Regions from separate parts of the Homo sapiens genome. Here region 1 is linked to region 2. Evidence: fine-mapped expression QTL. A gene starts in region 2. The other region holds a variant in brackets. All regions are shown on one strand. Distances are between the middles of the regions. Region 1 overlaps FBXO28 (F-box protein 28). Region 2 holds the start of FBXO28 (F-box protein 28).

What was found. PIP is the estimated chance that this variant, and not a neighbour inherited with it, causes the effect. A credible set is the group of variants that fine-mapping cannot tell apart.
Region 1: its variant is the best candidate, but not a certain one, in a credible set for the expression of FBXO28 in monocytes after triphosphate RNA (Kim-Hellmuth 2017, PIP 0.75).

Annotation. Positions count from the first base shown.
Region 1 is chr1:224,133,383-224,137,382 of GRCh38, reverse strand. It overlaps FBXO28 (F-box protein 28), which reads right to left. Exons shown (of 5, transcript NM_015176.4): 3 at 3,171-3,309. It overlaps LOC124903813 (UPF0764 protein C16orf89-like), which reads left to right. Exons shown (of 3, transcript XM_047436340.1): 3 at 1,070-1,174. The coding sequence ends at 1,174. Among named protein-coding and RNA genes, the nearest start is that of FBXO28, 21 kb to the right of the region's middle. The variant T/CT (reference allele first, on the strand shown) is at 1,758.
Region 2 is chr1:224,111,453-224,115,940 of GRCh38, reverse strand. It overlaps FBXO28 (F-box protein 28), which reads right to left and starts at 1,830. Exons shown (of 5, transcript NM_015176.4): 1 at 1,545-1,830. The coding sequence starts at 1,811. It overlaps LOC105373056 (a long non-coding RNA gene), which reads left to right and starts at 1,901. Exons shown (of 3, transcript XR_007066897.1): 1 at 1,901-2,006; 2 at 4,412-4,488. RefSeq lists enhancers at 1,768-1,837, 1,978-2,037, 2,058-2,187.

The sequences.
Region 1 (4,000 bases), 22 kb before region 2:
CCCAGCTAATTTTTGTATTTTTAGTAGAGATGGGGTTTCACCATGTTGGCCAGGATGGTCTCGATCTCTTGACCTTGTGATCTACCCGTCTTGGCCTCCCAAAGTGCTGCGATTACAGGCGTGAGCCACCGTGCCCAGTCCCAACTATTACTTTAAAGGTCCAAAATTTTGGTACATATTTGGCTATCTAATTTGAACTATAATGTTGCTACTACTCAGATTCACTTAAGTGAATAAAATGCTTACTGTAGACCTTAAGTTTGACAAAATGAATGTAGTCTATATAAAACCACAAAAGTTAGTTTTCTTAACAAAGTATAAAAGCTTCTGTGGCTAGGCACAGTGGTTCACACCTGTAATCCCAGCACTTTGGGAGGCCAAGGCAGGCGGATCACTTGAGATCAGGAGTTTGAGGCCAGCCTGGCCAACATGGTGAAACCTCGTCTCTACTAAAAATACAAAAATTACCTGGCTGTGGTGGTGTGCACCTGTAGTCTCAGCTACTTGGGAGGCTGAGGCATGAGAATCGCCTAAACCTGGGTGGCAGAGGTTGCGGTGAGCCAAGATTGCACCAATGGACTCCAGCCTGGGCGACAGAACGAGACCCCATCTCAAAAACAAAAACAAAAAGACTTCTGAACTTTTTTTTTTTCTGGAGACAAAGTCTTGCTCTGTCGCCCAGGCTGGAGTGCAGTGGCACGATCTTGGCTCACTGCAAGCTCTGCCTCCCAGGTTCATGCCATTCTCCTGCCTCAGCCTCCCGAGTAGCTGGGACTATAGGCGCCCGCCACCATGCCCAGCTAGTTTTTTTTTTTGTATTTTTAGTAGAGATGGGGTTTCACCATGTTAGCAAGGATGGTCTGGACCTCCTGACCTTGTGATCCGCCCACCTTGGCCTCCTAAAGTGCTGGGATTACAGGTGTGAGCTACCGCGCCCGGCCTAAACTTTTAAGTACATCCCAGAAGCAAGATCTCAGGGAAAACAAGAACAACTTATCATAAACACCATATATTAAATGAAGATTATATGTTAGACTGAAAATTATTTTGTATAATGTTCTTACTTCAGCATGTGGAAATTAAATGCCGCATCCTTATATTTTGCAGACAGGATGTGAAAAGTTTAAGCATGAGAAGTACAAAAAAGGGAACACTCATAAAACAATCCAAATAATGCACCTGTACCGGGAGGCAGAGGTTGCTGTTAGCTGAGATTGCCCCACTGCACTCCAGCCTGGGTGACACAGCACGACACCATCTCAAAAAAAAAAAAAAAAAAAACTGAAGTCAACAAATGGTTTCCAAAAATGACAGGACTCCAGTGGATTTAACATTATTTGTTTGTTTTTGAGATAGAGTCTTGCTTTGTCGCCAGGCTGGAGTGCAGTGGCATGATCTCGGCTCACTGCAACCTCTGACTGCCTGGTTCAAGTGACTCTCCTGCCTGAGACTCCCGAGTAGCTGGGATTACAGGCACATGCCACCATGCCCAGCTAATTTTCGTATTTTTAGTAGAGACAGGGTTTCCCCATGTTCGCCAGGCTGGTCTTGATCTCCTGACCTTGTGATCTGCCCGTCTCGGCCTCCCAAAGTGTGGGGATTACAGGTGTGAGCCACGGCACCTGGCAACATTATTTGTTTAGACTGTCAACATCACCATTCCAAACACGTGAGCCTGATCAACTAGCACAGAAATTGGTGACTTCTTCTGTACAGGCCAGATACTAAATTTTTCTTTTTCTTTTTCTTTTTTTTTT[T/CT]TTTTTTTTTTTTTGAGACAGAGTCTTGCTCTGTTGCCCAGGCTGGAGTGCAGTGGTGTGATCTTGGCTCAGTGCAACCTCCGCCTCCCGGGTTCAAGCGATTCTTCTGCCTCAGCCTTGCAAGTATCTGGGATTAGAGGTGCGAGCCACTACAGCCGGCCTGGATCATAAATATTTTAATCTTTGTAGGCCACATGAACTCTGTCACAAACTATTCAACTCTGTTACTTAACAACTGACTGAATCTCTTTGAAGTTATGATAACTGTGAGATGTTTCTTAGATATTCATGTTTCTAACAATGAGATATTCAATAAAAACTATGATGCTATATGAAACAAGCTAAGTTCAAAGAACTCAGGAACACTTAAAAGTTAAGGCCTTTAAGTCAGATTCAGAAAAATCTGGCATAAGAATCACTCTGAAGTTTCTAACTGGTCATCCTCTTATAGCACCCTACAAAAAGCATTAGCAGGTAATGTGTTGGTATGCAACAAGATCTTTTAAAGAAAATGTATATAATGCAAAGAAAGTGAGATATACCAAAATATTTCAAATACAATCATAAGAAATGGGATTCCCCCCAAAAATAAATGTCAAAGAAAACTAAAAATGGACAAAGTACGTATTAAATATTGCCAATGTAAATTATCTTTGGAAATAACAAAAAGCGAACATTCAGATTTTACTAGATATTAATTATTTCCAACCATGTTAAGGGAAACTTTTGCCAGCATCAACCAAGTAGCAAAATGACCTTTAATTATATCTCTACCACTTCCATATAAAAAGATACAGACATATGTCAATTTACACTTAATTCAAGGAGTAGGGTACTACTGAAGGTATAAGTAGTATGTTGAATGTTGGAGTTTTTATTAACTTAGTAATGGTAAATATGCCACAATATAGTTATTTCTGTGTTAAAAAGGACTGTTATTTAGTTCTGGGAATATTGGTAAATAGCAATTGTTTATTCTTGTCAAATCAGAAAGTTTATAAAGTTGTCGTTATGAAACATTTCTCAAACAAAACAAAAACCAGCTTGTCCCTCCTTTTCTACCTCCCCAAAATTATAATAGTCTTGAAGGCAGGGACAATATGTATGTTGTTCATTGCTGTATCTCTGGCATCATAACCACCAGTAAAACCTCAAATTTTATTCTTGAGTATGAACTCTTAAAAAACTTCTCTAAAGAATATTAGGGTTTCGACTATTTCATAATTAGAATTTTAAATATAAAGATCATACAAATGATACATATTTATAACTGTACAGAAAGCAAACAAATTCATTAGTAGAAACTCAGAGAAGTAGAAACAATTCTAACATTTCTAAAATCAGAAATTCATAACTGTATAATAAGTTTATGTAGGGCAGTCCAGCTGTTCTAGGCAAGCAATTCTATTTTACCTTTCCTGGGATGAAGCAACAGAGATTGGAATCCACATATTTCATGAAAGTCATATTTAATAGTGACAGCCTTGTTTCAACAGCAGCAAGAATGTCTGCATGACGAGCTAATGAATGGTTTCTCCTTTCTGACTCTCTCCTATAATAATAATAATAATAAAAGCAAGGCAACCATTAAAGCAGTATTGTGGACTAAAATATTAAGCAATCAAGATGGCTTAATGAAACAGTCTTTTACATGTTAATTTAGAAATCTACAGTTGGGTCATAATTTAACTGTAATGATGAATGAATCACTATGCCTAGAAATCGTTACCAAAGACTGGTACTCATTGACAAAATATTTGAAAACAAACAAAACAAATTATATATATATATATATATTTTAATTAGGTTTTTTGGGGCCGGGCTTGGAGGCTCACGCCTGTAATCCCAGCACTTTAGGAGGCTGAGGCGGGTGGATCACCTGAGGTCAGGAGTTTGAGACCAGGCTGGGCAACATGGTGAAACCCCGTCTCTACTAAAAAATTAGCCAGGCGTGATGGTGCATGCCTATAGTCCCAGCTACTAGGGAGGCTGAGGCAGGAGACTCGCTTGAACCCGGGCGTCGGAGGTTGCAGTGAACCAAGACTGCACCACTTGCACTCCAGCCTGGGTGATAGAGCAAGACTCCATCTCAAAAATAAAAATAAAAGTAAAGGTTTTTTGGCTATCAAATCTAGTGGCTATTAGAACCAAAGAAATTAGATAAATGAATGGATTACACATGGAAATATAGGCAGGAGATGATATGCTTTTGATGATAAAATTTAACTCCTTTAAACTTTTTA
Region 2 (4,488 bases):
TGGTTCCCCCCTCCCCACTACATTTTTTTAAAATAGTAAAATGATCAACAAACAAATAAAACTCAGTTTTTCTCAACACTTACAAAACAGAACTGTGAATATTCCAAGATTTACAAAGCCATTGTCTGGTTGAATGGTTCAATTCAATCAAATGTTATATGCCCAATTTTCCAAACACTGTATATGTACAGCGCGAATTTTGATTAAACGCCACTGTTTGTAAAAATCTGAAGGAATATTTAAGATTCTACATGAAATTCTAGAATGAAAACGTTTTGGAAATTCAGAGGCAATCAATTGTGAAATATCTATTTTCAGCTGAAGAAATTTTCCATCCTGCAGACTGGCATGGTTGAACTGCTGTGTTGACTAGAAAAAAAATTGGCCATCAGTTTGAATTAATATTTATAAGTTCTCTTTTAAAAATGTTATGATTTCCTTTAAAAATGTAATTATAATCCACTTGAAAGTGGAGGTGTATGCCTACAATATAGCATATTGAGTAATAAGAAGATGTTATACACAGCACATTCAGAAATATCTTTGTCCTCTTAAAAACAATTCCCAGCACAGATTTAGCTTCTCCATGGAATCGGTTTGCAATCACTTCAAAATGTCCACCTCCTTCAATTTCTTTACCACTTAAAGATAATTTCATTGAAAGGCAGCAAAATATCTAACTGAACTAACAATCACCACATCTTCAAACCTCTGGAGTGAAGTAAAACCCCAATGGCAAATTCATTATTTTTAAAAATCATGGACTGACCTATTGTGATTTTAAGGTATAAAGAAACCTCTCCTAAAGCAGGTGGGTGGGCGTAAATCACTAGTTAAAAATAAATTGCAAAAGAGAAAAAACCCGTCAAGGGGTAAGTTGCTTCTCTACGGTGGGAAGCGTTAGGATGAGGCAAAGCAGGAATGGTCATTTCCCAAGGCTCTACTTTAGTGGTCAATTAGGGCGCTGGGGCTAACGCTAAGTAAACACGTTCGAATTCTTCGGAACCTCTACCTGGGTTTGGGGTCACTGAGCCACCTTAGTCTACTCAATCTTCTCGAACAAGAAAACTTGGGTGGTTGGGGTGGGGAACAATTCGTTATTCTTGCAAGATAAACCAAACCTGGCTGGGATCATCTGCCTACTTCTGAGTTTTCTCCCCAAACCCAGGCCGGGGGCTGGAAGCGGCATACAAAAGGCAGGCGACATGACCTCTCCGGGTCTACTCTCGGGCCAGGCGGAAGGTGGGAAGACCAACTCCGCTACCCCTCCCGTAGAGGGCCCGCTTCCGGGCGGGGGGCAAGGAGCCCCCAAGGCGAAGTCCCCTCAGGAAGTAACCCCAGCTCCGCAGCTAGGACGCAATCGGGAACCAGCCCACTCCTGCTGACTGACGCCAAGGGAGAGTTCGGGACGGGAGCGGCTCCCTCCCAGATCTGTAGCCGGCTGGGGCTCGCGGGGGGCTCCCTTCCCGGGGAACGCGCTCCCTTCTCATCTCCCAGACCTCGGCCGGGGGGAGAGGGAGGCAGGAGTTCTGCGGGGGCCTCACCAGGCGGAGCTGGCTAATTTCGTCGTAGGACATAAAGCTGAGGATGTTCTCGATGGCTACGATGGGCAGCGCCACAAGCGTGTTGTTTTGAGGCAGCTGGTCCGGAGCCAGCGCGGGGGCTGGGAGCGCCTGGGACCCCGGCTGCGGGTGCTGTGGCGCGGGCGGTGGAGGCTGTCGCTGGGTAGAGCCGGAGGCCAAAGAGGAACCGCCGTCGCCTTGGCCGCCGCCTCCTTCCTCTGCCATCCGCTCCTCCGCCGCTGCCGCCATCTTGGGGGCTTGATTCCTTACCCCCACAGCAAGGGGAACAGGGACACTTCCGGTGCGTCACTTCCTCCTCCTGCAGCCGCCGGGGAAGGGGTACCTGGAGGAGTGGGGAGGAGCCTGTGGGATAACAGGCGGAGAGAGACTCACAGGGTGCCTTTCAAGTGGAAGTCAGGGAAGATCATGTAAACCTCAAGAAAGGTGGTCATCCTAGACCCTTTTGTCTAAGATTAGTAACTACTTGAGAGCAAGGAAACCCTATTTATTAAAATGAACTTCACTGTGCAGTTTTCTTAAAGGGCTTCCTGACAATGGATGATAAAGATGTTGCCTAGTAAGTGTAGATGGAAATAATGTAGTTAGACTAGCACCATTTTTTAGGAATCATAGAAATGATTGATTTAGGCAAATAAAAAGGTATGAAATATCAATAAGAACTACAACATGAATGAACCGTGAGAACATATTAAGTGAAATAAGTTAGACACAAAGGACCACATATTGTATGATTGCATTTATATAGGATGTCTTAAATAGGCAAATCCATAGAGATAAAAAGTAGATTAGTGGTCGCCAGAGGCTGGGGGAAATGGGGAAATGAGTGCTAATGGGTGAAGGGTTTCATTTTCGGGGTGATAAAAATGCTCTGGAATTAGCGGTGATGGTTACACAACCGTATGAATATACAAAAACCACTGAATTACTATATACTTTAATGAATTTTATCATATATGAATTGTATTCTAATAACTGATTTAGGCAAGAATCATCAAAAGGTACTAAAACTAGGAGGTAAACGTGATGAGGAACATGATATTTCCATAGTCTCAAAATAACTCCCCATAAATTATGTATTATTTACAAAGATGAAAAGAAATAGTTTACAAGGCTGGGCGTGTTGACTCACGCCTGTAATCCAGCACTTTGGAAGGCTGAAGCGGGAGAATCACTTTAGCCCAGAAGTTGGAGACCAGCCTGGGCAACGTGGAGAAACCCCATCTCTACAAAAAATACAAAAAATTAGCCAAATGTGGTGGCTAGGTCCTATGGTCCTAGCTACTCGTGAGGCTGAGATGGGAGGATTGCTTGAGCCACACGAGTTCGAGGCTGCAGCGAACCGTCAGCCTGCCACTGCACTCCAGCCTGGGCAACAGAGCGAGAAAAAAAAAAAAAGTTTACAATAGAGAAATTTGGTGGACACCATCATAACCAAATGATCAAGACTAACGCCACAGTTATAGGAGGAGCCAATATCATATGCCTATTAATATAATACCCTGAAAAGGACGCAGCATAATGTAGTATTCATGCAAAAAAAGCACGAGTTGCGTTTGAGGTAGACATCGCTAGATGACGGGCCCATAAATTATTCAAAAGTGTTAACGTTACAAAAGACAAAGACTAAGGGTTTGTGGCAGATTAAAGGATACTAAAGAGACAGGGCAACTAAATCTATGGGTGATCCTGGATGGGATCCTGGATTAAGGAAGAAATAACTATGAAGAACGTTATTGTGACAACTGGCAAAATTTAAAAATGGACAGTATATTAGATTATACTGTAATCATATTAAATTTTTCGATTTGGGTAATTGTATTATGGTCATATAAGACAATGTCTTTGTCTTTAGGAAATACACATTGAAGGATAAGCATGCTTCTATTATTTTCCTTTATTTATTTATTTATTTTTTTGAGATGGAGTCTTGCTCTGTCACCCAGGCTAGAGTGCAGTGGTGCGATGTCAGCTGGTTCGAGCAATTCTCCTGCCTCAGCCTCCTGAGTAGCTGGGATTACAGGCGCCCACCATCACGTCTGGCTAATTTTTGTATTTTTAGTAGAGACGGGATTTCACCATCTTGGCCAGGCTGCTCTCGAACTCCTGACCTTGTGATCCACCCACCTCAGCCTCCCAAAGTGCTGGGATTACAGGCAGCAATGGCGCCCGGCCGCATGCTTTGTATTTTACACTTTGCTTTCTTGTGCTTCTCAGATATTGCGTTTTTAAAAATGAATTGAAGGTTTGTGGCAACCCTTGAGCAAGTCTCTTGGTGCCATTTTTCCAACAGCATGTGTTCACCTTGTTTCTTTCTGTCACATTTTGATAATTCCTCTGATATTTAAAACTTTTTATTATTGTTATATCTGTTATGGTGAGCTGTGATCAGTAATTTTTTTTGTTTATTGAGGCAGCATCTTGCTCTGTTGCCCAGACTGGAGTGCAATGACAGGATGATGGCTCACTGTAGCCTCCACCGCCTGGGTTCAAGCAATCCCCCAACCTTGGCCTCCTGAGTAGCTGGGACTACAGGTGTGTGCCACCACACCTGGATAATTTTTGATTTTTTTTTGTAGAAACAGGGTTTTGCCACGTTGCCCAGGCTGGCCTTGAACTCTTGTGCTCAAGCAGTCTGCCTGCTTTGGCCTCCCAAAGTGTTGAGATTACGAGAGTGAGCCACCATGCCTGGCAGATCAGTAATCTTTATGTTACTATTGTAATTGTTTTGAGGTGCCACCAATCATACCCATATAAGACGGCAAATTTAATCAATACATGTAGGTGTTCTGACTGGCTGCTGTTTCCCCATCTCTCTTCTTCTCCTGCAGCTATGGTGGAAATAGCAAGAGAACTGGAATTAGAAGTGAAGCCTGAAGATGTGACTAAATTGTTGCTGCAATCTCAT